Regions from separate parts of the Homo sapiens genome. Here regions 2, 3 and 4 are each reported to be linked to region 1. The links are microRNA targets in miRTarBase. Many come from high-throughput screens and were not tested one by one. Region 1 holds a microRNA gene; each other region holds the end of a gene's coding sequence.
The links. The annotated mature microRNA hsa-miR-625-5p reads AGGGGGAAAGUUCUAUAGUCC and lies in region 1 at 3,253-3,273, shown strand. An mRNA with a match to its seed (bases 2 to 7 or 8) in the 3' UTR can be bound and repressed. Matches are read on the target gene's strand: a 7mer-m8 pairs with bases 2 to 8, a 7mer-A1 pairs with bases 2 to 7 and ends in A, and an 8mer does both.

Region 1 (8,224 bases):
TCTCACAAAGTGTGCTTCTCTGGATGGAGCAGGCTGGTGCTTCAGTAGAACCCGGGTACCTTTCTCTTTGGCTTCTTTCTTTTTCCGATCATTTTCCTTTACGTGTTTCAGGAAGCTATTTTGGCTCTTAGAGTGCTGAATGTGCTCAATACGCACATTAATTCTCTTGGCAAGAATCTTGCCCTTAACTTGTTTGTTGACAAGTTGTTTACAATACCAACAGCATGCTGAGTAACGTGTTTGTTTACAACTTGCTTACAGTGCCAACAGCATGTTGGGTAACACTGCAGACTCTTCCAGTTTTGCCATGATAACACTCGCGGAGCATTCCTTTTTGAATAGTACCCATTCCCTTGATGTCTACAATATCACCTTTCTTATAGATTCGCATACATGTGGCCAAAGGAACAACTCCATGTTTACTAAAAGGCCTAGAGAACATATATCGGGTGCCTCTCTTCTTTCCCTTTGTGTTCGTCCTTTTGGCGAATTACTGGAAGATGGTGGTTCCGGCCGAAAGGTTGGATTTTTTTTTTTTTTTTTTTAACACTAAATATTTCACTTCACTCTTTTTGCTTGCATGGTTTCTGAAGAGAAAGTTTGATCTAATTCTTTATTTCTCTGTGGATAAGATGTTTTCTGTGTGTGTTGATTTTTTTCTTTACCTCTTGCTTCTTTCGAGATATCTTATTGGTCTTAAAGTTAATAAGGAAAAAACTAAAGTTTTGCTTTTGATTTAGTTTTCTCTTTGTCTTATTTTCTGCAGCTTCACTATCATTTGCCTATGTAAATATTTTGGTATTTATCTTGCTTGGTGTTCTCTGAACTTCCAGGTTTGGTGTTTCTTACTAAAGACATTCTTTCCTGTTACAGTGTTATTGATTTGTACACTCCCCTTCCTCGCCTCCCCTCTTCACTGTTTTTTCCTTCTCTTTACTCTTCCTTTCTTTCCACAGGATCTCACTCTGTCACCCTGGCTGGAGTGCAGTAGTGGCGTGATCATAACTCGCTGCAGTCTTGAACTCCTAGGCTCAAGTGATTCTCCCTCCTCAGCTTCTCAAGTAGCCAGGACTACAGGTGTGTGCCACCATGCCTGGCGATTAAAAAAAAAATCGTAGAAACAGGGTCTCCAATGTTGCCCAGGCCGGTCTTAGAAAAAAGGACTTAGCTGGGCATGGTGGTGGCATGCACCTGTAGTCCTACCTGCTTGGGAAGCTGTGGCAGGAAGATTGTTTGTGCCTAGGAGTTCAAGGCTACAGTGCGCTGTGAATCACCACTGTACTCCAGACTGGGTAACAGTGAGACCCTGTCTCAAAACATATATATAAAAAAAAATTCCTGGTGATAATTTGATAATTCCTGGTAAAAATTTCTGCCACATCCGAGTCTGTTTCCGAGGCTTGCTTTGTTTCTTCAGATTGTATTTTTTGCCTTTATAGTGCCTCATAATTTTTTTTCATAGCCAGACAGAATGTATCAGGTAAAAGGAACTGAGGTAAATAGGCCTTTAGTGTGAGGTTTTATGTTTATCTGTTTAGAAGTCAGGCTGTGTTTAGTGTTTGTTCTGGCTGTGGTATCGGAGGCAAATGTTACGGGATCTTTAAGGTGTTGCTTTTCTGTCTAGAAACCTCTGTGGCCAGTGGCGCCTTTGCCCGAGTTCTTGTCCTGTGTCCAGGAAGAATTATGTATGCAGACAAGTGGAGGGTGAGCAAGACAAAGAGAAGCTTTACTGAGTGTTAGAACAGCTCAGAGGAGAGCTGCAGAGGGCAGCCCCTCTCTATAGGCAGGTTGTCTCATCCAGTGTTCAGCTCTCAGCAGAGAGGAGGCCCTGGAGTGAGTGGCTCCTCTCTGCAGGCAGGTCCCCATTGACTTCCCAGCTCTCAGCAGAGACGATAGCTCCTCTCTGCAGCTAGTCATCTGGCTGTCTCTCTGGCCTCTGCCCTGCTCTGGCTGATCTCGGGGCTTTTATGGACCTCAGTGGGGAGGAAGTGTGTCAATTGGTACATCGGTGGCCATGGGTGGGCTGGAAAAGGCACCACAAGCCCCCACTGCAGTCTGCGGGACTGGCAGCCCGGTCCCCAACGTTCAGGCCCTCCCTGGCCTGAAGGTGGGGTCTATCTGGGGACGTGCCCCCTTCCACCCAGGAGCCTGTCTGCTTCCTGCCACTTTCCATGGCTCCCAGGCTGCTTGTGCCAAGGGGCACCTGCCTGCCAGCATGGAGCAGCTCTCCACCTCAGCTTCCTCAGAGGGGGCCTAGGCGGCAGGGCCTGAGCATGCGCATATCCTGTTGGGCTGTGATGATATCCAGGCTTGGCTCCAACCCCACTCTGAGAACCTGCCACATTGGAGCCGGTGCGGGAAGTGGCAGCGGGAACAGGCATTTCCGAGCCTGCAAAGGCAAGGGGGGCCTTCCTGAGCCCCCAAGAGCACACGGAGGCCTGGGTCCACAACCCTGACTTGGGTAGCTGCAGCTGTATGGGGTTGGGGGACAGGGCTCCTGCCTGTTTCCAGTCCCCAAGAGCACATGGAGGCCTGGGTCTACCACCCAGGCTTGGGTGGCTTGGGCTGCTGCCTGCTCCTGGCTCCCACTGGCACTGTGGAGCATGCAGCCCTGGCTCCGCCCCCTTTCAGCCTGAGACAGGGGCTCCAGATCCTTGCTGGACCTGGGCTGGGATCCGGGGCAGGGGTGACATCGCCGGGAGCTACCCCAGTTGCCCTGGCGCTTCAGTGGCCCAGGCAGAGCAGATAACTGTCCGGCCTGGCTGTTGGGAGTGGCAGGCTCAGCAGTCGCCTGATGTGGGGTGGACCCTGGGGATGTAGCCCCGGGCAGCCCTGCACAGAGCCTCCTCCTGAGGCCCAGGAACCTGGCACCCTCAGTGGGGTGGGCGCAGTGGCTGTGTCACTGGCTGGTCCCTGAAGTGGGCACCGCTCCCACTTCCTGCCTCAGGCCCCTGAAGCTCAGCCTCAGCTCTGCATCGGTCTGCTCTCTGCTTGACTGTGCTGCACAGAGGGCGGCGGGCTGTTGAGGGAGGGGGTCTGTCCGCCTCTCCCTGTGCCGTCCATGTACCAGAAAGCCACCGCCATCACTATTAGAGGCTAAAATTTCTTCTACTGTCCTTGCTTTTATCTGCCCTGTTGTCTTTGGGTTTTTGTAAAGAATCCTTAAATGGGGTCTGAGGCTTGCAGGTTTTTAAGTTGTAATCCTGTGTTGTACAAGAGCTGTACTGATGTGGTGGTAAGGGTAGAGGGATGAGGGGGAAAGTTCTATAGTCCTGTAATTAGATCTCAGGACTATAGAACTTTCCCCCTCATCCCTCTGCCCTCTACCAACTGTGAGCCTGAGTTGAGTAACTGTCTCTTTTTCTCGGTCAAAGGATAGATGGGGCTGGAGTTGGGTATTTCCCTTCCCTCCGGTTGGTTAGGCACTGTAAAACCGTAGTAGGTTAGGCAATCTAAAAGCCAGTTGGTTAGGTTCTGGTAAAATAGTTTCCTTTTCTGGAATACCTTTTAAGAGAAATAAAGTTCCTGGCGTATTTCAAAATGGTTTTTCTTCTTCCCCTGCTGCAAGCAGGAGGGGTTTTTTTTCAGATCTTTACCATGAGAACCTGGTAGGGCTCCTGGAGGTAAAACTCAGGAAAGTATGGGGACCCCTGTAAGACTGGTCCCCTTACAGTTTTTAACTCTCAAGCTAGTCCACAATTACTGTTTCAAGTGTTCCTACTGATGCTGGCTTCAGTTGAGAGCTTGTATTCCTGGACTTCTGCTTCCTGCACACTGTGATTCTCTATCTGCCTGTCTTGTCTCTCCAGGTTTTAGAGCAGCAGTTTGCCCTCTGACCTCAATTCTCTGATGGCTCTAAGAAGAGTTGGATTATCAGTTTTTTTTTTTTTACCCCCAGCTTTTTTTCTTGTCGTGAGGTTGGGAGTGATGAATTACAAGCTCTTTACAACTGTACTTAAGGTTATTTTTTGACCATTTTTGATGCTTTTGTAACTAGTCAAAAGACTTATTACAGTATCCTTTATCTCATTTGGCAGTATTGTTCATTAAGAATTTTATCTCTTTCTGACATCAGGTCTGCACATTTTGGGGATAATATATTCTAATTTGCAAGAAAGATTAAAAAACTTCTCCAGAGGGAAGTTGATCATAGGACTGATTCTTATTATTGATGAATTGACTGCCTTGTCTTGTTTTGTGTTGCTATGTAGGAATACCTGAGGCTAGGTAATTTATAAAGAGTTTGATTTACCGCACAGTTCTGCAGGCTGTACAAGAAGTATGGCACCAGGATCGGCTTGTAGTGAGGGCCTTAGGCTACTTCCACTGATAGCAGAAGGCAAAGAGGTGCCAGCTTGTGCACAAAATGAGAGAGGAGAAAAGGGTGGGAGGAGGGGCCCTGGCTCTTTTTAACAACCAGCTCTTGGGGGAACAAATAGAGTGAGACCTCAAGCATGCCTGAGGAAGAGCATTAATTTATTCTTGAGGGTTCTGACCCCTCCCCACCATGCCCAACAACATCTCCCATTAGGCCCCACCCCCAACATTGAGATCAAATTTCAACAGGAGGGACAATCATCTAAGTGATAGCATAGACTCAGGCTATTTACTATTCTGTTTTCAAGTATAGATTGAGGGCAACAGCAGCCTTTGTTTTCTATGTTGATGGCCAAAGGTTTATTTTTATATTCTTATACTGTAAAAAAAAAAACAACTTTATTTTTATAGCCTTTTTGGGTGTAGGGTCATGTCAGGCTTTACTAATTGCACTTCTGATAAGTATACTGATGATGCTGAGGATGGTTATTAAAGCCCTATGCTGATACTTTGGATTTATGGAACCAATTAATTTGATGACTCATTTACATTGAATTTCTTAATTAGTAGATTGCCCACTAATTATTTTTATGAGCACAGAATAAGGTAATGTTTATTCTTATTTTTTTTGTGATATGGTAAAAAACTTAGTTCATATAATGAATTTAGTGCTCAAATATCTTAGTAGAAATTGAAGTAGAAAAAGACATTGTTGTAAATTAAATGTAAGATATAATTTTATTTTCTTTAGAAAACTTTACATTGAAAAGATCACATTATAGATAATTTAGACAACTTATTTATAACTTTTATTTATTATTATTATTGAATGTAAAAGAATTACATGCAGTCCCATGATCTTAACATAACTGTGGTTACCATGTTGGTATATGTGCCTTTTAGTCCTTTTTCATACACAATTTTTTTTACAAAGTTATAATAATAATTTCTTTTCAAATTTGTGCCTTATTTCAGTTAACAGTGTAAATGTTTCCCATTTCTAACAATGTTTTCTCATTGAGTGAGGTACTGTTAGGTTGGTCAGACTGATAGTTTATTGTACGTATTGCTGTAATATCTTTGTACATTTAGCTTTTCCATGTTTGTACCATATCTTTGGGTTTTCAGAAGTCTGTCTCTCTCTCTGTTTCTCTTTTTGTCTGTCTTTTCTATCTCTCACCTTCATTTGGGGAGCATTTTGTGTTCTCTTTCACAGGACTAATTAAGTTTTATTGGATCTTGAAAAACGGGATTAGAAATTTTTTCTTACTTATATAATTAGAAAACAATGCTTTTGGACTTACATTGCCACGGCAGTTTACACAGTTTTATTCCCAAAAATTGTAGTTTTGTGACTAGGTGATAAAAATGATCTCCTATATGTGCCAAACTTGGTATTCTAGACACTCATACTTAGGATGTAAATTGACTGTAGTCCAATAATTTAATATGTTGTGTTTAATTCTTGTAATATTTTACTCACAAATTGAACTTTTCCTTACCAATTTAATGTTTGTAGGCTTAATTTGGCATCTTTGTCAGGATTATTAGACTTCTCTGCATTCTTCTGACTTCTCCCTAAACTAATGTTTAGAACTGAATTGGGTCCAGCAATTTAAGTGGAAAATCAGTATGACTAGAGACTTCTAGAAACTTCTGGTGTCACTGAGATGGTGAATTTGATGATTCTGACCCTACTTGCTCATCTGTAAAAGCTATTAGAGGATTGTTTTAAGCATTTCTATTCTATACAGGTATATGTACACCATGTAATACCACTCAGCCATAAAGAAGAATGAAATAACATTTTTGCAGCAATTTGGGTGGAGCTGTAGGCCATTATTCTAAGTGAAGTAACTCAGGAATACAAAACTGAATACCATATGTTCTCACAAGCGGGAGCTAAGTCATGGGTACGCAAAGGCATACAGAATAGTAAAATAGACTTTGGAGACTGAGACGCGGGGAGAATAGGAAGAAGATAAGGGATAAAAAACGATATATTGGGTACAATGTATGCTACTTTGGTGATGGGTGTAGTAAAATCTCAGACTTCACCACTATACATTTCATCCATGTAACCCAAAACCACTTGTACTCCAAAAGCTATTGAAATAAAAAAGATATTTAAAAAAAAAGAGGCCAGGCAGGTTGGTTCACGCCTGTAATCCCAGCACTTTGGGAGGCTGAGGCGGGCGGATCACTTGAGGTCAGGAGTTCGGGACCAGCCTGACCAACATGGTGAAAACCTGTCTCTACTGAAAAAAAAAAAAAAAAGCCAGGCGTGCTGGCTCCCACCTGTAATCCCAGCTACTCATGGGGCTGGGCGAATCGCTTGAACCTGGGAGGCAGAGGTTGCAGTGAGCCGAGATTGTGCCACTGCACTCTAAGAGCAAAACTCTGTCTCAAAAATAAATAAATAAATAAAAAATTAAAAAAGATCTTCTGTTGTACCTAATCTTCTAGCCTTATTATTTCTTAGAGATTTTATAAATCCATGTGGCTTTTTTACTCTTGTCATCTTCAAGTTATTTGCCAAGATTGAAAAATAACCATCTTTCTCCTAATACCTTGGTGAGCCTGAGAGAAGAAAATACTACACAGTTCATTTTATTGTAAAAGTAGTGAAATTTCTCAACTGATATTCATCCTTCATTTTTGTGGATTTGTTCAGGGAAGATAAGATTTATTGTTTATTTTTATTTTGCTGTATTGCCAGGCTGGTCTGGAACTTCTGAGCTCAAGCAGTCCTCCTGCCTCGGCCTTCCAAAGTGTTGGGATTATAGGTGTGAGCCACCGCACCTGGCTGGAAGACAGGATTTTTTTGGGAAAGTAAATATCACTTGAGAATATCTACTAGTATGGAATCTAAAGTTATGCATACAAGGATGATCTCATATTTCTTTGTATCTTGTTCCCAGTCTTTCCCCCAATCTTGTCTCGCTTTTTCCTCAACAAGCGTAGTTAACAACTACTATGAATTTGGAATACAAAATGATAACGACCCTGCCTTTAGGAAACTGACAATTTAGAAGGTCAACTAGAAATATAAGTTAATAATTACAGTACAGGAAGTCCCCTGATTTCCTCTATAATAACATGTCTCCCAAAATGTGATTGAAAATAAAAATTCCACATGTCATAGGCGTAGGAGGTATTTGGGTGTTTGTATGGAGAGTCATTTCACAGAGCTAAAATTTATTATTATAAAATACTCAATTCTAGTTCCTGGGCATGTTATCTCCTTTGGAATTAGAAATCTTAGTTGCTGCATAACATTAAAAGTGTCAGGATGATGCCTGTAATCCCAGCACTTTTGAAGGTAGAGGCAGAGCATTGCTTGAGGCCAGGATTTTGAGACCAGCCTGGGCAACATAGTGAGACCCTGTCTCTACCAAAAAATTTAAAAAAATTAGCCAAGCATGGTGGTGTGTGCATGTAGTCCTAGGTACTTAGGAGGCTGAGGCAGAGGATCGCTTGAGCTCAGGTATTTGAGGCTGCAGTGAGGCTGCAGTGAGGCTGAGCTCTACCATATAGAGCTCAGGCTCTATATGGTAGAGCCACTGCAATCCAGCCTCCGCAACAGAGTGAGACCTTGTCTTGGGGGGCAAAAAGTGTAAGGATGGGATTTCTAGGCATATTTGGGGCTGAGGAAATCAGTCTTGGGCCCAACCTCCTTGTAGGGGGTGAGGTGGCAACCTCTGGAATTTGAGGCCTGCTACTGGGATTGTAGGTATAGGAAGTTGAGAGGGAAAGGGTCTTTCTCACCCTGCTGTGGTAGTAAGAGCTTGGTGCTTAATGGGTGCCTTTTAGTTGTTTGATCACCTAGGATTTCTGCTTAGAACCCAGCAATACTTGTAGGCCTGCACAGTCCCAAGAGAGAAATCAGAGACTTGGTGATAAGTCA
Region 2 (3,000 bases), not on the chromosome of region 1:
TAGTATGCAATTAAATTTTCCACACCAGATTTCAGGCCCTGAAAAAGCAATTTGAAAAAGGCTCTCTGTGGCCGGGCGCGGTGGCTCACTCCTGTAATCCCAGCACTTTGGGAGGCCGAGGCGGGCAGATCACGAGGTCAGGAGATCAAGACCATCCTGGCTAACATGGTGAAACCCCGTCTCTACTAAAAATACAGAAAATTAGCCAGGCGTGGTGGCGGGCGCCTGCAGTCCCAGCTACTCAGGAGGCTGAGGCAGGCGAATGGCATGAACCTGGGAGGTGGAGCTTGCAGTGAGCCGAGATCGTGCCACTTCACTCCAGCCTGGGTGACAGCGAGACCCTGTCTCAAAAAGAAAAAAAAGAAAAAGGCTCTCTGTGCAGCCACAGCCTCCACTGGACCGTGCAGATGGGACCCACCAGGGTTACTGCTTGGCCCGCTCCACCATGGACCACCAGCATCTCCTCTCTACCATGGTGGCCAGCTGGAAGCCCTGTGGACACTGAGCCATGCCACAGAAGCCATCAGACGCACACCATGGGGAGAAATGGCAGTGTGGGGATCCAAGCAAGCCTGCACCGGCATCGAGGCAGAGTTTGCACTCCAGTCACTCCATGGTCGCGTGGCCTTGGACAAATGATTCACTGTGTGAGGTCCAGGTTCCACATCTCTCAAACTGGGATCTTAACCCCCAGCAACCTCTTCATCCCAAAAGGCCATGTTGATGTGAAATATCTAACACGTATGGTGAGCACTTAATGAGAGCTGTACTTTACAAACCTCAGTTTATTGACATTCTAATCATTCGATAGGTATTTCTCAGGCACCACATACAAAGGTTTGTTTTTTTGAGATGGAGTTTCGCTCTTGTTGCCCAGGCTGGAGTGCAATGGCGCGATCTCGGCTCACCACAACCTCCGCCTTCCAGGTTCAAGTGATTCTCCTGCCTCACCCTCCCGAGTAGCTGGGATTACAGGCATGCACCACCACGCCTGGATAATTTTGTATTTTTAGTGGAGATGGGGTTTCTCCATCTTGGTCAGGCTGGTCTTGAACTCCCGCCCTCTGGTGATCTGCTCACCTCAGCCTCCCAAAGTGTTGGGATTACAGGCGTGAGCCACCACGCCCGGTCTTGTTTTACATTTATGGGAGCCTACAACATGCCCAGTTCCAAGTTCAAGAAGGAATGGGAGCTGCAGTTGTTGTGGTCTAACAGCTTTCCGTTTAATGTCACACTGTAAATGACACCAATTGCACCCCAGGAGGTTCCCACTCTGTAATAGGTGAACCAGCCCGTGGCCCACGGCTGGAAGATCACATGTCAGAGCTCTGCATGAGCCAGGGGAGAAGGTGCTGCATGGACAGAAGTAAGTGGGTGACCAGTGCCACTAAAAGCAGAGCTTGAGTTTACTCTCATAACCATCGGCTGTGGGCCAGACATTTGGCTGCTTTGCAGGCAGACCAGGCTTCCCGGTGAGTCATGCTGCTTAAAATGCTGTCTGGGAACGCAGAGAAAGTCTAAACGCCAAGACGCTGAGGACAGCCCCGCAGGTGGACTGCCATGCCCGGCTCGGCCCCTTTTTGGTCCCCAGAGTGGACCCTTCTCCTCCCCACAGAGGGGAGGCATCTGATGGTGGCTTCAGCAGACAACCTGGAGAAGAACCACTCAGGGTTTGTCTTGCTGACGTCCTATAGCCAGCAAAACCCAGGGCAGGAGAACCCTGGCTCTTTAGGGCAGGTGGGGGAGAGGGCATCTTAGCAGGGAAGGAGCTAGGGTAATGCCAGAAGCAACCCACTCAGCAGGGCCACTCAGCAACCCCCTGGCGAGCAGAAAGGTGGCAAACAACACATCTTCTGGGCAGACTCCTTTGAAGAGAGGTAGAACATACCAGAAAGGAATAGCATTGTGACAGCAGGGCCGGGTGGGTGTCCTGCTTCTGACAGATCTAGTGCTGAGGGCAGACGTGGTGCATGTCTCCAGGTTTCAACCACACACAAACCGGTCGTGAAAGTTTGAAAGATATTTATTTAAAAACAGAACAAAAAAGCTTTGGTATTTCAAAACCTGACAATCATCAATCACTAGAAAGTTAAACACCTCCCCTGAAGCCCCAAAGTACAAAACCACAGATGTCCACAGGCTCCTAAAAAAGGGCGTGCAAACCCGAGGATGACAGCACAACCCGCACCCTCCTACAGGCAGCAGCACAGCCACCCTGGGGGGCCCCGGCCCAGCCTCGGGACCGTGGGGCCTCCGAACGCCGAGATGGACATCACCGCCAACACTCACCATCTACAGGGGATGCAAAAGCCATCTAGCAAAATCTCAACAAAAATAAATTAAAACTTCATTAAGAAAGAACACGTTAAATTAGGAAAAGGACACAACTTTTCCTAGACAAGAGTCTTTTCAAAAGATGATCTATTTCCTGGGACAGAAGAAAGGGGGAAAGTGGAAGGAGTGAGTTCCATTTCAAGTATTTGCCATACAGGTTCATTTTATTGAGTGGAAAGCTTACAAAAGGTCCACTGGCCCCTTCCCTCCCCACGTGACACTCATTCCTTCCAATGCAAACTCTGGTGTATCCACACTCACTTCTGCGTCACCGGTTTCCCCCAACAAGGCACAAAGGGCGGGTGCTTCCAAAGGATCCCTTGCTCCTGGCAGCGGGACTTTCAGTGCTGGGTGTCTTGTGCAAATGGTGGCTGAAAGCAGGACTGTTAGTTCACTCAGACACTGGGATCTTCCTGTTCAATTCACAAAACAAGTGTGATTACTGTTCACTGCCAACCCCAGTGGCCAGCTATAGAAATAGGCTACGGAGACAACCCTAGTGGCACCACACCCTGGCTCTGACCCAGCCTTGCAGAATTACCACGGACTCAGTGGCCTGGGCCCTTCTGGAGCTGAGTGTTCACTGGCTCCACTCTGGCATGGCCCAGCTTGAGCCTAAGTCAAGGAGAGATCGGTCAGTACCCCATGAAGGTAGTTTGGCTCATT
Region 3 (8,224 bases), not on the chromosome of region 1:
GTGTCTCAAAAAAAAAAAAACAGAAAAGAAAAAAAAAATTAGCCAAATGTGGTGGTGCACGTCGGTAGTCCCAGCTACTTGGGAGGCTGAGGTGGGAGGATTGCTTGAGCCCGCAGGTCACTGCACTCCAACCTGGGTGAAAGAGTGAGACCCTGTCTCAAGAAAAAAAAAAAAAAAAGCAATGGAATGGCCTGAACCCAGAGCAGTGACTCTTTCCTGCCTCAGCCCCTCTGCACTGGGCACCTGCCACTTACCAGACTGTCGCACACATTCTCTCACCTGATTCTCACAGCCTCCCCTTGAGCTGGGAGCTGTAATTATCCTCTTCGTGCAAACGGGTGCAGGAGTGGGTAAGAGCCCAGCTGCTGGGCTCATTGGCTCTGTGTCTGCGGACAACTGTTCTCCCGTCTGAAAATGAAGATACTAGGCTGGGCGCTGTGGTTCACGCCTGTAATCCCAGCACTTTGGGAGGCCGAGGCGGGTGGATCACCTGAGGTTGGGAGCTGGAGACCAGCCTGGCAAACATGGTGAAACCCTGTCTCTACCACAAATACAAAAATTAGCCGGGCATGGTGGTGCACGCCTATAATCCCAGCTACTCAGGAGGCTGGGGCAGGAGGATCACTCGAACCTGGGAGGCGCAGGTTGCAGTGAGCTGAGATCGTGCCACTACACTCCAGCCTGGGCAACAGAGTGAGACTCCATCTGAAAAAAAAAAAAGAAAAAAAAGAAAGAAAAGAAAATGAAGATATTACTGTGCCAATGATATGAGTCAGTATTTGTAAAGTGGTTAGAACAGTTCCTGGCAGTTTGTGCTTTATAAATGTTAGTTCTAATGGGGAAATGGGGGCACAGAGAGGTTATGTGACCTGCCCCAAAGCCACACAGCTTATGAGCAGGGATTTGCCACCAGGTCAGTCTCTGACTGCCAAGCTGTGCTCTTTCTGTTCCCAGAGCTAGCCTGTACATTGAAGGTAGACAGCAGTGTAGCCTCTGCCCAGTGGAAGCCCCTCAATCCACACGGACCTCATCTGTGGCCTTCCATTTCTTATTCCTTAGAAGTTCCACCTGGTGCCAAGCATCAACACCATGAGTGGCAGTCAGGAGCTGCAGTGGATGGTACAGCCTCATTTCCTGGGGCCCAGCAGTTACCCCAGGCCTCTGACCTACCCTCAGTACAGCCCCCCACAACCCCGGCCAGGAGTCATCCGGGCCCTGGGGCCGCCTCCAGGGGTACGTCGAAGGCCTTGTGAACAGGTAAGGCACAGAGGCATTGCAGTGGTTCCGACCCCGCCCAGGAGTGCTAGGGTGCAGAGAAGCTCCTGCCAGAAAGGAGAGCACAGGCTTAGGAGGGGGTAAGGTAGGCTACAGGTGACTACTGCCCAAGGCTGAAAGTGATAGGAGCCCCACGGGAGGCCCAGAGGGTACAACAGTCACTTCCAGATCAGGGAAAGCTTCCTGGAAAAGGTGGCATATTAGCCTAGAAGGATGGGTAGGACTGGCAGAGGCAGAGAGGAAGGAAAGGACATTCCAGGTAGCGGGGGTGGCAGGAGCAAGGATGGAGGCGGAGGCAAGAACATGTAAGGTGCGCACACGGAATGGTGAGGGGGTCTCCACCTGCTGACATGCATAGAGGGGGCGCTTATGTTGTCTGGGAGAGAACAGGAACAAGAGGGTTCCCTTCAGCTACTCCCTCAGTCTCAGTTTCCCTGTCTCATTTAATCCTCACAAAATCTCTCTGGGGAATGTACTCTGGTTTTCCCCATCTTCCACCAAAGAAATGAAGGCACAGAAGGGTAGTCACTTGCCCAAGATCACACAAGTAGTGAGTAATGACACAGGACTGGCCTTGGCCCCAGGTCTATACAACTCTAAAGTCAGATCCTAACCACCAAACCAGGGCCAGGTGCAGTAGCTCATGCCTGTAATCCCAGCACTTTGAGAGACCTAGGCAGGAGGATCACTTGAGGCCAGGAGTTCAAGACTAGGTTGGGCAACATAGAGAGACCCTGTCTCTACCGAAAAAACAAAATAAAATAAAACCCCCAAAACTAATCACCAAGCCACGCTGTCTCACTGGAAGCTAACAGAAGGCTCAAAGTAGAGGGAACTGACAATTCTTGGCTCCCCAAAGCCCTTACCAAAATAAGTGAGTAAGAGATGGCGAGTCTTTAAAGGAGTGGCTCATCTTTCCTCTCCCTGGGGCATTTTGGTGTGGGAGACTACAGGGGATGAGGTTAAAAAGCTTGGTCGGCAGGTAGAGGATGGGGAGAGAGGTTAGGGCCCTGGGAAAGGTGAGAGATCAGCCAGAGACAGGTTTCCCAGAACAGAATGTCTGGCCTTTGTGGTGAGGAGGGACTGTGGTATGAGCCGCAGAAGCGGGCCAGGGGTAAACCCTCCTGTGCGTCCTTCCTTCAGCCTGGTCCTGAGGGTGACCCTTTGATCCTGGGTTCTCCAGGTAGGGCTGTGAGCTGTGAGTTGGATCCTTTTGGTGAAATGGTCTCTCTCATCTGGCCTGTCACTCAATGTGGAATAGAGTGAGTGAGTTCTATGGGTTCTAAGTCCTGCTCTGGAACCATAAGTAAGTTATCCTCTCTGGGCTTCAGTTTTTCATGGAAAGTTGCGTTAAGAATCTAGTTTAAGGCCAGGCATGGTGGCTCACGCCTGTAATCCCAGCACTTTGGGAGGCCAAGGAAGGTGGATCATGAGGTCAGGAGATCGAGACCATCCTGGCTAACATGATGAAACCGTGTCTCTACTAAAAAATACAAAAAATTAGCTGGGCGTGGTGGAAGGCACCTGTAGTCGCAGCTACTCGGGAGGCTGAGGCAGGAGAATGGCGTGAACCCCGGAGGCGGAGCTTGCAGTGAGCCGAGATGGCACCACTGCACTCCAGCCTGGGCAACAGAGTGAGACTCCGTCTCAAAAAAAAAAAAAAAAAAGAATCTATGTTTTTTTAAAAAAGAGGCCAGCTGTGGTGACTCCCCCTGGTAATCCAAACATTCTAGGAGGCCAGTGCAGGAGGATCCCTTGAGCCCATGAGTTCCAGACCAGCCTGGGCAACACAGTGAGACCCCGTCACTACACAAAAAAAAAAAAGAAAAAAAAAGGCCGAGCACAGTGGCTCATGCCTGTAATCCCAGCACTTTGGGAGGCTGAGGAGGGTGGATCACCTGAGGTTAAGAGTTCAAGACCAGCCTGGCCAACATGGTGAAACCTCGTCTCTACTAAAAATACAAAAATTAGCCAGGTGTGGTGGTACATGCCTGTAATCCCAGCTACTTGGGAGGCTGAGGCACGAGAATCACTTGAACCCAGTAGGTGGAGGTTGCAGTGAGCCAAGATTGGGCCAATGCACTCCAGCCTGGGAAAGAGTGAGACTCTGTCTAAAAAAAATAAAATAAAATAAAATAAAATCTTTGCATGTTCTCAGTGAAAAACAAGAATCTACGTAAAGTACTTGGCTGGCACATAGTAGTTTTCCAATAAATTGCAACTTAATCAGCAGCACTCATTAGCCCCTCCTAGTGCTTACAGCTCATGGAAGAGGAGACTTGGTTGTCCACAGATCCAGAAGGATGAGGGTCCTGCAAAGAGGGTGCTGAGAAGGAAAGGTCACTTCTGGCTGGGGAATAAGACGGCTTCCTGGAGGCAGGAGCATCTTAGTTGAGTCCTGGGAGATGAGGAGGGTTAGGGTTTGCGGAGGGGGAGGGCATTATGGGAGAGGAATGTGCACTAAAGCTAGGTGCGAGGAGGAAATTTTACCAATCAAAGCAGACAGCGCCTCAGTGCAGGGAACTGGTTGGGTGCAGTGATCCCTAAATCACCGGCTGAGGGGGCCCTGCCATGACCTCTGCCAGGGTCCTACCACTGGGCCACCATGAGGGGCGAGTTCCAGGCAGCCAGTAGCCCAGGGTCCTCCTCACTGCGGGTCTCACCCCCAGATCAGCCCGGAGGAAGAGGAGCGCCGCCGAGTAAGGCGCGAGCGGAACAAGCTGGCTGCGGCCAAGTGCAGGAACCGGAGGAAGGAACTGACCGACTTCCTGCAGGCGGTGAGCACCAGCCCTGGTCCACCGAGCTCAGAGGGACCCTGTCTCCCAGAGCCCCCAGAGCCCCAGTATATGTAGCCCCCTCCTCACCATCCTAGCTCCTTGTCTGAGGGGCAGTCCTTCTGGGAAAATGATGAGGAAAAATTGATTAGAAACTGGCTGCAGCATGTCTCACTCACAGCAGAGCTGAAGCTCAGCCAGCAATCTCCTTTTTTTTTTGAGACAGAGTCTCGCTCTGTCACCCAGGCTGGAGTGCAGTGATGAGATCTCGGCTCATGGCTCACTGTGACATCTGTCTCCCAGGCTCCAGCAATTCTTATGCCTCAGCCTGCTGAGTACCTGGGGCTACAGGCGCCTGCCTCCCTACCCGACTAATTTTTGTATTTTTAGTAGAGACGGGGTTTCGCCAAGTTAGCCAGGCTGGTCTCAAACTCCTGGTCTCAAGTGATCCGCCCGCCTCAGCCTCCCAAAGTGCTGGGATTACAGGCCGGAGTCACTGCCTGGTGCCAGCAATCTCCTAAAACGTCTGGGCCTGATGGGAGTTGTGCCCATTTTCTCCCAGGGGCTTATGGGAGTTGTAGTCCAGACTTGCTGGGGACTCTCCACTGCCCCCCCTCTCCCCCCGCCCAACCCCAGCTCCTCAGAACCCTGAGTCCAAACGTCTGCGGCTCTGGGGTATTCAGCCCTCACCTTTCTGACTCCTCTCCTGATCTTCTACAGGAGACTGACAAACTGGAAGATGAGAAATCTGGGCTGCAGCGAGAGATTGAGGAGCTGCAGAAGCAGAAGGAGCGCCTAGAGCTGGTGCTGGAAGCCCACCGACCCATCTGCAAAATCCCGGAAGGAGCCAAGGAGGGGGACACAGGCAGTACCAGTGGCACCAGCAGCCCACCAGCCCCCTGCCGCCCTGTACCTTGTATCTCCCTTTCCCCAGGGCCTGTGCTTGAACCTGAGGCACTGCACACCCCCACACTCATGACCACACCCTCCCTAACTCCTTTCACCCCCAGCCTGGTCTTCACCTACCCCAGCACTCCTGAGCCTTGTGCCTCAGCTCATCGCAAGAGTAGCAGCAGCAGCGGAGACCCATCCTCTGACCCCCTTGGCTCTCCAACCCTCCTCGCTTTGTGAGGCGCCTGAGCCCTACTCCCTGCAGATGCCACCCTAGCCAATGTCTCCTCCCCTTCCCCCACCGGTCCAGCTGGCCTGGACAGTATCCCACATCCAACTCCAGCAACTTCTTCTCCATCCCTCTAATGAGACTGACCATATTGTGCTTCACAGTAGAGCCAGCTTGGGGCCACCAAAGCTGCCCACTGTTTCTCTTGAGCTGGCCTCTCTAGCACAATTTGCACTAAATCAGAGACAAAATATTTCCCATTTGTGCCAGAGGAATCCTGGCAGCCCAGAGACTTTGTAGATCCTTAGAGGTCCTCTGGAGCCCTAACCCCTTCCAGATCACTGCCACACTCTCCATCACCCTCTTCCTGTGATCCACCCAACCCTATCTCCTGACAGAAGGTGCCACTTTACCCACCTAGAACACTAACTCACCAGCCCCACTGCCAGCAGCAGCAGGTGATTGGACCAGGCCATTCTGCCGCCCCCTCCTGAACCGCACAGCTCAGGAGGCGCCCTTGGCTTCTGTGATGAGCTGATCTGCGGATCTCAGCTTTGAGAAGCCTTCAGCTCCAGGGAATCCAAGCCTCCACAGCGAGGGCAGCTGCTATTTATTTTCCTAAAGAGAGTATTTTTATACAAACCTACCAAAATGGAATAAAAGGCTTGAAGCTGTGGCCTGAGTGCCTCACTGGACCCAGAGGCCAATGGGAGAGTATTTGGAGCCCTAGGTCCCAGCCTTAGCTCTACAGACTCACTGCATGACCTTGGACAAATTCTTTGATATTTTTGGACTTTGTCTTATCTGACAAGTGGGGCTACATCCGCTCGGCCTCATCTCCGGGACTGAGGGGAGACAGTCCTCTGGGGTAAAAGCGAAGAGGCTTACCGCCCCTCTCCCCGTGGGGGCCCACAGTGCTGCTGCGTGTGCCACGGAGGGGCGCTGTTATGCCCCCTTCCAGCCTCAGAGGAGGCGGCCGAGTGGTTCTAGGCCCCCAGCACCTGCTTCCTGCCCCATTGTCTTGGACAGGAAGGAGCCGGGAAGGGAGCTGGAGCCACTTCAGGGGCTGGATTAAGGCCGGTCCCGGCGCCCGATGGGGGAAGTCTGGTTTACCACTGCCCCGCATCCCACCCCAGGCTCGAAGTAATGGGGGAATCATTAGTTCTGCAGTCCTTCTGGATGGGAATTGTACCCTGTATCAGCACCCCACCCTCGCCCCAACCCCGGCGAGTACCAAACAGACGCTGCCCAGGCCGTGGGCTCCGCTTCCGTCCGGGTTTATTACCCCCAATCCAACCCCCAGCAAGTCCCTCCGCTCCAGCCTTCAGTCCCCCTGCTGCCCTGCCAGCAAGAGCGAGGGGCCCTTCTTGGTGTCAGGATTTCTTAGTCCATGCCAGCGGCCCCTCCTGCGCAGCCAGGACGGCGTCCAGGTCCCGAGGTCCACAGCGGTCCCGGGGCTCGGGGAGCAATCCGGGCGGGCGTCGGCGTGGAGGAAGCAGTGCCTTCAATCATCGGGGGAACAGGCCAGGGGCAACTGATCCGGACTGCCCACGCTGCCAGTGCTGGAGCTTCCATCGCCTAGGTCGCGGGGCCCGCACGGGGGCAAGGCAAGCTCGGGTGCTGGCCCGGCTCCTGATCCCCCGGCGCCGCTGGGGCCGCCGCGGGGGCCCCATTCTTCGCCCAGCGCCAGGCAGAGCTCCTTAAGCGCTAGGTTCTCCCGCAGCAGCTCCTCCTGGCGGCCCTCCAGCTCGGCCAGCTTCTGCCAACAGCCGCCCAGGTCCTCGCGCACGGCCCGGGATGCTTGGGTCCCGAAGAGCTGCCACTGGCGTGCGGCGCGCCGCCCGCGCTGGCGCTCCGAGTCCAGGAAGCAGCAGAGGTCGCGCAGCTCACGGTTCTCTGCCTGCAGACGCCGGTTGAGCTGCTTGAGCTCGCGGATCTCGCCCAGGTGGCCCTGCAGCTGCCGATTCACCTCCTGCATGAGGCGGCCGCGCTGCACCAGTGCCGCCAGGCGCGCCGCCTCCTCCCGCCGCAGGCGCCGCACTAGCTCTTCCTTGCCTAGCGCCGCCATCTCCTCGTCCGTCAGCTCCTCCAGGCCGCCTGCCTCGGCCTCCATGGCTGGTCAGGCCTCTGGAGCATCGCCCGCCCGCCGCCGCGGCCCAGGAGCCCCACGTCGGGCCCGGCGCCACTCAGGCTCGGGCTCCGGCTCCGCACGCGGCAGGCAGTGGCCGAGGCAGCGTAGGCTGCAGCAGCTACCCGGGCTGGGCACGCGGCGGGGCGCGCGCCGGGGCGGGGCCGCATGTCGTTATGGAAGGACAGCCAATCCGGTGAAACGTCCCCGGAAAGGGGCGGGGCCTGAGCTCAGGGGCCGCCCCCCTCGTTCCCCACCCACTCCGGGTGTTACTGATCCTCGATGTCAAGGAACCCGCGCGTCATCGCCCTCCACATCGGTCTCAACCCGAAACTAGGAGCTTCGAACCTCCAAGTACCGGATCGCCCCAAGCTTGAGCCTAGGCCTCTCGGCTCTTCTGAGAAACAAGATTCAGGCGTCCGCCCCTGACTCCTGCCCATCCCCCACAGAAGTCAGATGGACCGCTCTCCAGTCCCTCTTTACCTTTGATCAAATTCGGAAGTCTCGGCCCACTAAGGATCGCTCCTGGTTCCTCGGAACCCTGAGTCCAAACGTCCTAGCTCACCAATAGACTACCCTCCCTCCCAGGGAGCGTTTCCTGCCTGGGGGGAGGAACATACAGGATTCGTTTGTTCAATAAACGTTTTTTATGTGCAAGGCCCATGCAGAAATAAATTTAACCAAAATACCGATTCCATCCTCAAGGAGGTCGCAGTCTGTCCGGGAAGTCAAGCTGTGTTAAGCAAGAAATAAATCCGGGAGGAGTATGGTCTGAGGGTCCTTAAGAGGGTTCCCAAAAGAGATGCTATCCAAGAGGCTCTGGTAGATCCATAGGACTTTGCCAAGTAAAGAGCTATTTCAGGGAGAGAGAATAACATAGTGAAAGACACTGGTGCCCGAAAGAGCCTAGCTGCTTTAGGAACAATG
Region 4 (6,924 bases), not on the chromosome of region 1:
TAAAGATCAGGAGACTGGTCACTCTTGGGGAAGGGAGGTACAAACTGGAGGGGAGACAGGAGAACCTGCTAAGATGCAGAAAATTTATTTTTTTTTAATTTTATTTTTGAGATGGAGTTTCGCTCTTGTTGCCCAGGCTGGAGTGCAATGGTGCGATCTCAGCTCACCACAACCTCCGGCTCCTGGGTTCAAGCAATTCTACAGGCATGCACCACCACACCCGGCTAGTTTTGTATTTTTAGTAGAGACGGGGTTTCTCCATGTTGTTGGTCAGGCTGGTCTCGAACTCCCAACCTCAGGTGATCTGCTTGCCTCGGCCTCCCAAAGTGCTGGGATTACAGGCGTGAGCCACCACACCAGGCTATTTATTTTGAGACAGAGTCTCACTCTGTCACCCAGGCTAGAGTGCAATGGCACGATCTAGGCTCACTGCAACCTCCACTTCCCGAATTCAAGCGATTCTCCTGCCTCAGGCTCCCGAGTAGCTGGGATTACAGTCATGTGCCACCATGCCTGATTTTTGTATTTTTAGTAGAGACAGGGTTTCACCATGTTGTCCAGGCTGGTTTTGAACTCCTGACCTCATGATCTGCCTGCCTTGGCCTCCCAAAGTGCTGGGATTACAGGCGTGAGCCACCGTGACCGACTATTTATTTTTTGAGATGGAATTTTGCTCGTCGCCCAGGCTGGAGCACAGTGGTGCGATCCTGACTCACTGCAACCTCCACCTCCCGGGTTCAAGTGATTCTCCTGCCTCAGCCTCCTGAGTAGCTAGGATTACAGGCATGCACCACCACGCCCAGGTAATTTTCTTGTATTTTTGGTAGAGACAGGGTTTCATCGTATTGGCCAGGCTGGTCTCGAGCTCCTGACCTCAGGTGATCCACCCGCCTCAGCCTCCCAAAGTGCAGGGATTTCAGGCATGAGCCACCTCGCCTTTCAGCCCACACAATGAAGGTTTATGAAGCCCCAGATTCCAGGGCCTCCACCACAACCCCATCTCTGCCACACTTCTGGTCCCACTGGGGGCCGTGGTCCCTGCCCACTGGACCCAGTAGGTGTAGGTGTGGGGGTCTGGGCCCCGGGGGGATATACACCTTAGTGTAACAGAACTCAGGGTCTGAGCCTGTATCCTCAGATCCATGACCTGGCCGGGTAAGGAAAGGAAGGGAAGGGGGTCAGGGTTCCTGCAGGAAGGTTATCTGAGTGGCCTTAAACAGACCCAGTTGTCTCTTACTTGTAGTTCTCAAGAGTAACAGTAGAATGTGCTGGGAATGCAACATCCGGAGATATGGAGGGACTGGCCAGGCGGCCTGGGCTCCATTCCTGCCTGCCCTAGAAACAGGATGCCCTTCAATGCTTGAGCCCGGTGACTCAGGTTTCCCCCAGAGTAGAAAACCCAGGGCTGGGTACTTTTTGGGGTCCCTCAGCTGCCATACAAGTGAGGCACACACAGTTGTGACCCTATCCTCCCTAGGCCACTTTCCTAAGCCTTGGGGGACCAGCTTACAACGGACCCTGGGATTCTGCTGTCCCTTGCTGCCCATCTGTGAGAAACAAGCCCACTTCATGTAACTTTTTGCGTGTGGCGTTCTGTCTCATCACTCTGGCAAGTTGGTAACCAGTGCACAGTGAACCTGCTTCACAGACCACACCCCATAGTCCCTGGGCCTCCAGAGCAAAGGGAAGCATCCCCTCCTTCCCACAGCCCTGCTTGCTCTGGAAGGATGCACCCTATCAGTGGGGCCGATGCCAGAGGCCTCCTGAGGCCTCCTACTCCCCAAGCCCAGAGTGCTCTCACCCCTCGCCCGTGGCCTCTGTGAGCGTCTGGCTGGGGCTGTTGACCTCATGCTTCTGGGCCCACATGCTGGGGTACTGCGTCCCTGCAGCCAGGCCCTCCACAGGCACCCTGATGTCTGAGGAGTCACTGGCCCAGCAGAGCCAGTAGGGGCAGGTCTTGGAGTCTGGGCCTGCGGGGCCCTCAGGGTGAGGGAGCTGGTGGTCTGAGCCGGTGTGACCAGGCCAGGGACTAGTTTGGGAATGTGGAAAGGAGAGAGTCATTTGATAAAGTTTGTTTGTGGCTCTAATGAGAATAAAGTGCACAGCCTGGCACTTTTTACAAATGTGCACACGCACGCACGCGCACACACACGCAAACACACATGCACACACAAGTGCACGTGCACACACACGCACATGTTGCTGGGCAGTGGAAAGGTGGCCCCTCTTACCTGTAGACATGCTCAGGACGTCCCTGGGGCCACCTACTCCTTTCTTCTTGGCCCACACAGAGGTGGTGTAGAGGGTCCCAGGCTGAAGCCCTCCACCACGAGCCAGCAGTGTGACGTGCTTGTGTTCCCGCTGGCCATGCCCCTGGACCCAGTAGATGGAAGTCTGCCGGTCTGGGCCCTTGGGGCTGCCCAGCTCAGGGTGATGGAGCTGGAGGTCCGAGCCTCCACACTCACGATTCTGTCTGCTTTGGCGGCTGACATGGGTAGAAGCCTCTGCGGCAAACAGAAGACGGAATCCCACGGCCCTTCCTAGACGTGCAGGATGGAGGCTGATGGGGTCACTAACCTGCTGCTGTGGCCTCTGTCGTGGTCCCGAGGGCCTGGGGAGGGCCCAGATGGGGAATCAGACCCACGGTGGTCTGACCTGCAGGATCGGGATGAAGGCTGCTGAGTCCCACCCCGCCTCATCCCCACCAGCCACCCCGGCTTGGGAGGGAAGATGGAGCCGGCGTTTTGCCCCTTGCCCCAGGTCTGGGTCCCGGCAGGGCTGGAAGGAGCCTGAGAGGGATGTGCGCAGCACCTCCGAGAGTCCCGCTTTAGAGAAACACGAATCAGATCATGAGAAAGCAGACCTCTGAGAAGTCAGATGAAAGGTCGTCGGGGGACCAGAATCAGGGAGGAGGGACACGACGCTGGGGCTGCTGGATGCCGACAGGAGAGCAGCGTCCCGTCGCTCTGGACTGCCGACCCCACAGAGCCCAGGGACCAAAAGCCAGAATGTTCCCCAAACACCAGGGATTATGGGCCCAGCCCCTCCTCCCTCAGACTCAAGAGTCCAGGCCCCCAGCCCCTCCTCCCACAGACTCAGGAGTCCAGCCCCTCCTCTCCCAGACCCAGGAGTTCGGGCCCCCAGGCCCTCCTCCCTCAGACTCAGGAGTCCAGACCCCAGCCCCTCCTCCCTCAGACGCAGGAGTCCAGGCCCCCAGCCCCTCCTCCCTCAGACCCAGGCCCCCAGCCCCTCCTCCCCCAGACCCAGAAGTCCAGGTCCCCAGCCCCTCCTCCCTCAGACTCAGGAGTCCAGACCCCCAGCCCCTCCTCCCTCAGACCCAGGAGTCCAGACCCCCAGCCCCTCCTCCCTCAGACTCAGGAGTCCAGGCCCAGCCCCTCCTCCCTCAGACTCAGGAGTCCAGGCCCAGCCCCTCCTCCCTCAGACTCAGGAGTCCAGGCCCCCAGCTCCTCCCTCAGACTCAGGGGTCCAGGCCCCAGTCCCTCCTCCCTCAGACTCAGAAGTCCAGGGCCCCAGCCCCTCCTCCCTCAGACCCAGGAGTCCAGGTTCCAGCCCCTCCTCCCTCACCTCCAGGAACCCCTCATGTCTGCAGGCCCCACGTGCCCCTGGAATCTGCACACCCAGACCCCCGTCCCTCCTGCTACACTTCACTGCGCAATTTCCTCTTTCCCCACCTTTCGCCAGGTCTGAGTGGAGAGGGTAGGAGATGAGGAGGAAGTGGAGGTTTCGAACCTGAGTCCAATCCTTCAGATCCTCCTCATGCCTGACCCTTCCTCAAGGAAATCCCTCAGCTTCCACTTCTCCTCACTCCAACTGTGGATTCCTGTCCTCACTTTCCTTCCTGGTCCCCGTCCTCCAGGCTCCCCACCTTCCCTTCCCACCTCTGTACTCTCACATCTGAGTCCCTAAATGCAGGTCATGGATGGAGAAGTCACCTCTCTGCTGTAAGAGTCCCTAAATGCTGGCCATGGATGGAGAAGTCCCCTCTCTGTCGTAAGAGTCCCTAAATGCAGGTCATGGATGGAGAAGTCACCTCTGCTCTAAGAGTCCCTAAATGCAGGTCATGGATAGAGAGGTCGCCTCTCTGCTGTAAGAGTCTCTAAATGCTAACCATGGATGGAGAAGTCGCCCCTCTGCTATGAGTCACTGAAAGCACATCATGGATGCAGAAGTCAAATAGGGTCTTGGAGAGCAGCTTGGACCCTGTCAAGTCTTCAGATGCAGAATCTGAGGACCTGAGGGATAGCAGCTTGCCGAGGTCACACAGCCTTGACAAGGAGCACAGCTGGGTTCCTCCTTCCCATTTGATTCCTACCCCCTTGCCGCCCTCCCTCCTCCAAGACCCCTCATCCTCAAGCCTCCCACCCTTCTCCCGATACTGCATGTGACTGCAGCGGGTTGTATCCCCTAGAAAGATATGTCCAAGTCCTAACCCCAGATACCTCTGCAGGTGACACTACTTGGAAATAGGGGCTTTGCAGACATACTTAAGGATCTTGAGATAGAATCACCCTGGGTTTAGGGTGGGCCCTAAATCCAATGACCTGTGTCCCTAGAAGGATGCGGACACAGAGGGAGGCTGCCAGTTGAAGACAGTCACATGAAGACGGAGAGACACAGCCACAGGCCGATGGAAGCCAGGGATTCCCGGGAGCCTCCAGAAGCCGAGAGGGCAAGGACGGATTCTTCCCTGGAGCCTCAAGAGGGACCATGGGCCGGAAAACACCCGGATTTTGGACTTTGGGTCTCCAGAACTGCAGGAGAGTCCATTCATCTTGTTTCAAAGCATCTGGCTTGGGGTAATTTGTGACAGCAGCCTCAGGAAACTAACACAAAGACCAAACAGTCCTCTTGGCTCAGTTCTGCACAATCCTCACTTTATCCCCCCGAATCCCCCCACCAGAGGGCCATGGAGGGTCCCACTGGGCACCAGGCCTGGTCCATGGGGAGCGACAAAGAACCTTCTGCTGTCATTAACCGCGATGGTTTATCACAATCATGACCCTCCCCGAGGCCTCTCCTACGGTAACAGCAACATCTACGGTTCCACACCCACAGGGAAAACGGATTCAGAGCAGCAGCAGGGGGCGGGCAGGCTGTGGGGCCGACAGTGAACATGGAGGCAGGCTGGTGGCTGGGAGGGCTCCATGTGGGCCTGGCTGAGGAGCCAGGGATCTGGAGTCAGAACCGGGGGAAGGCAGCTGGAACCCAGTAGTGGACTTGGAATTCCGCAAATCGTCCTCAAACGTCTTCAGCCAGAAGCGACGGCGGCAGCGGCGCCTGCAGACAGGCGTCAGGAAGCTTCGCTGCTGAGGGTATTTCTCAGGCTGGGCTGGGCTGGGAGGCCCAGGTCCTTGCAGGAGGAGAGGGCCTGAACACCGGCCCTTCAAGCTCCCTAGTCAGTCAGTCTTGGGCACCGGGCTCCTGAGGGCTGACAGTGTGATGAGGAGCTGGGCAGCATAGTAGGTGGTCATGATCACCAGGTGGGCATGGGGCAGGGGCTGGGCGAAGGTGTCCCAGGCCAGCACGCCATCAGAGAGCGTGAAGAGCAGCGCGCCCCAGCCGGCACTCCCGCCCTGGGCCAGGCCGCGCCACAGCATGGCCATCAGGATCAGCCCATAGGCTGCCACCGGCAGGACCATATCCGGCTCGAGGTGCTGGAGCACAAGGCTGAGGTAGGGGCCAGGGGCCAGGATGATGAGCAGCAGCAGGCCGGGCTGCAGGGGAGAGAAGCCGAAGGCCCAGACGTAGAGGAGGTGGGCGGTGGCAAAGGCGGCCATGCCTGGCGGGAGAGGGGTGGGGTACCAGTGAGGAAGGCCCATCCTGGGAATGGCCCCGAGGTCACCCCTCAGGGCCTAAGAGAAGGACCATCCCAGAGCACCAGGCCCCACCCTGGCCGAGCCTCCTTGCAGGTCTCCCCACATGCAGTGTCCATCCTTGCTCTGCTCAGAACTGCCAGGAGGCCCCACCTTCCCTTGGCCTCCAAAGCCCCATGGCCTCCAGCTCTCCAGCCACTCTGCGCCAGCCACCCTGGCCTGCTGGGCTACAAGCACCTGACACGTCCCTGCCCCGGAGCCTTTACACTCGCCCTTCCTCCACACAGGCATACAGCCCTTCAGCTCTGCCCAAATGTGACTTCCTCAGTGAGGCCTTCCTCAGCAACCCTGCTTCAAACTGCAGTACCTCCAGCAGGTCCTCACTGCCCTCTGCGCCACCTCAGCTACTGCCCTAACACCGCCTGCCCCCACCCCTCGCTGGAGCGTGAGCTGCCTCGGTCACGGCTGCGCCCCCCACTGTGCCTTTGACCACTGGAGCTCTCACAGGAGCCCTCTGCACCCAGGCTCCCATCCAAGTGCTGGGGCCTCTCTCACACGGGCATCTGGAAAGCGTCACAGCACCTTCCACTCACCAGGGACGAAGGCTGCCGGCCAGATGAGGCAAGCGTCCCCCACAGCCGAGCACACAAGGGCTCCCTGGAGGAGCTGGGTGTAGCCCCCGCTTGGGGACATGACCCACAGGAACCCAGCCAGGCAGAGGACGGGCAGGCACTTGACCAGGGCAGCGAACCAGGACAGCTGGTCCTCGGGAATCCAGAGGCAGAAGTACACGCAGCAGGAGAGGATGAAGGGGCTCAGCCACCTGCAGACATCTGGGCGCTTTGGGGAGTGGGGAGCTACTGAGCCGAAACCCAGCCCAGCCCCCATTCTTGGGACTCAGATCTCATGGCTCCTGTCCCACCCCCACCTGGGACCCCAGCTGTACAGGCTGGACCCATTCAGGGACCAGGCTGCCAGAACCCAGCTTCCCAGGGCCCAACCAACTCAAGGACAGCAGCTCCCAGACCCGCCGGCTGCTGGGGTTCCAGGGCCCTGTCCCCCCAGCCCCAGGCACAGCTCAGAAGGCTCT

Region 2: miRTarBase lists KIAA2013 as a target of hsa-miR-625-5p. Seed matches in the 3' UTR shown: 7mer-m8 at 2,444-2,450.
Region 3: the mRNA of FOSL1 is a reported target of hsa-miR-625-5p. Seed matches in the 3' UTR shown: 8mer at 5,234-5,241.
Region 4: the mRNA of TMEM86B is a reported target of hsa-miR-625-5p. Seed matches in the 3' UTR shown: 7mer-m8 at 5,208-5,214.

What each region holds. Positions count from the first base shown.
Region 1 is chr14:65,467,864-65,476,087 of GRCh38, forward strand. It overlaps MIR625 (microRNA 625), which reads left to right and starts at 3,239; the gene lies at 3,239-3,323. All of the region lies in intron 2 of FUT8 (fucosyltransferase 8), which reads left to right. It also overlaps the pseudogene RPL21P8.
Region 2 is chr1:11,917,586-11,920,585 of GRCh38, forward strand. It overlaps KIAA2013, which reads right to left. Exons shown (of 3, transcript NM_138346.3): 3 at 2,006-2,747. The coding sequence ends at 2,730. Among named protein-coding and RNA genes, the nearest start is that of KIAA2013, 7.3 kb to the right of the region's middle.
Region 3 is chr11:65,889,842-65,898,065 of GRCh38, reverse strand. FOSL1 (FOS like 1, AP-1 transcription factor subunit) reads left to right here. Exons shown (of 4, transcript NM_005438.5): 2 at 1,060-1,257; 3 at 3,945-4,052; 4 at 4,770-6,017. The coding sequence ends at 5,180. It overlaps CCDC85B (coiled-coil domain containing 85B), which reads right to left and starts at 7,393. Exons shown (of 1, transcript NM_006848.3): 1 at 6,431-7,393. The coding sequence starts at 7,282. The coding sequence ends at 6,674. RefSeq lists enhancers at 3,732-3,841, 3,944-4,448, 5,733-5,892, 5,933-5,982 and a silencer at 7,123-7,602.
Region 4 is chr19:55,221,764-55,228,687 of GRCh38, forward strand. TMEM86B (transmembrane protein 86B) reads right to left here. Exons shown (of 3, transcript NM_173804.5): 2 at 6,428-6,674; 3 at 4,875-5,800. The coding sequence ends at 5,418. It also overlaps a transcript of PPP6R1 not described here. Among named protein-coding and RNA genes, the nearest start is that of TMEM86B, 3.5 kb to the right of the region's middle.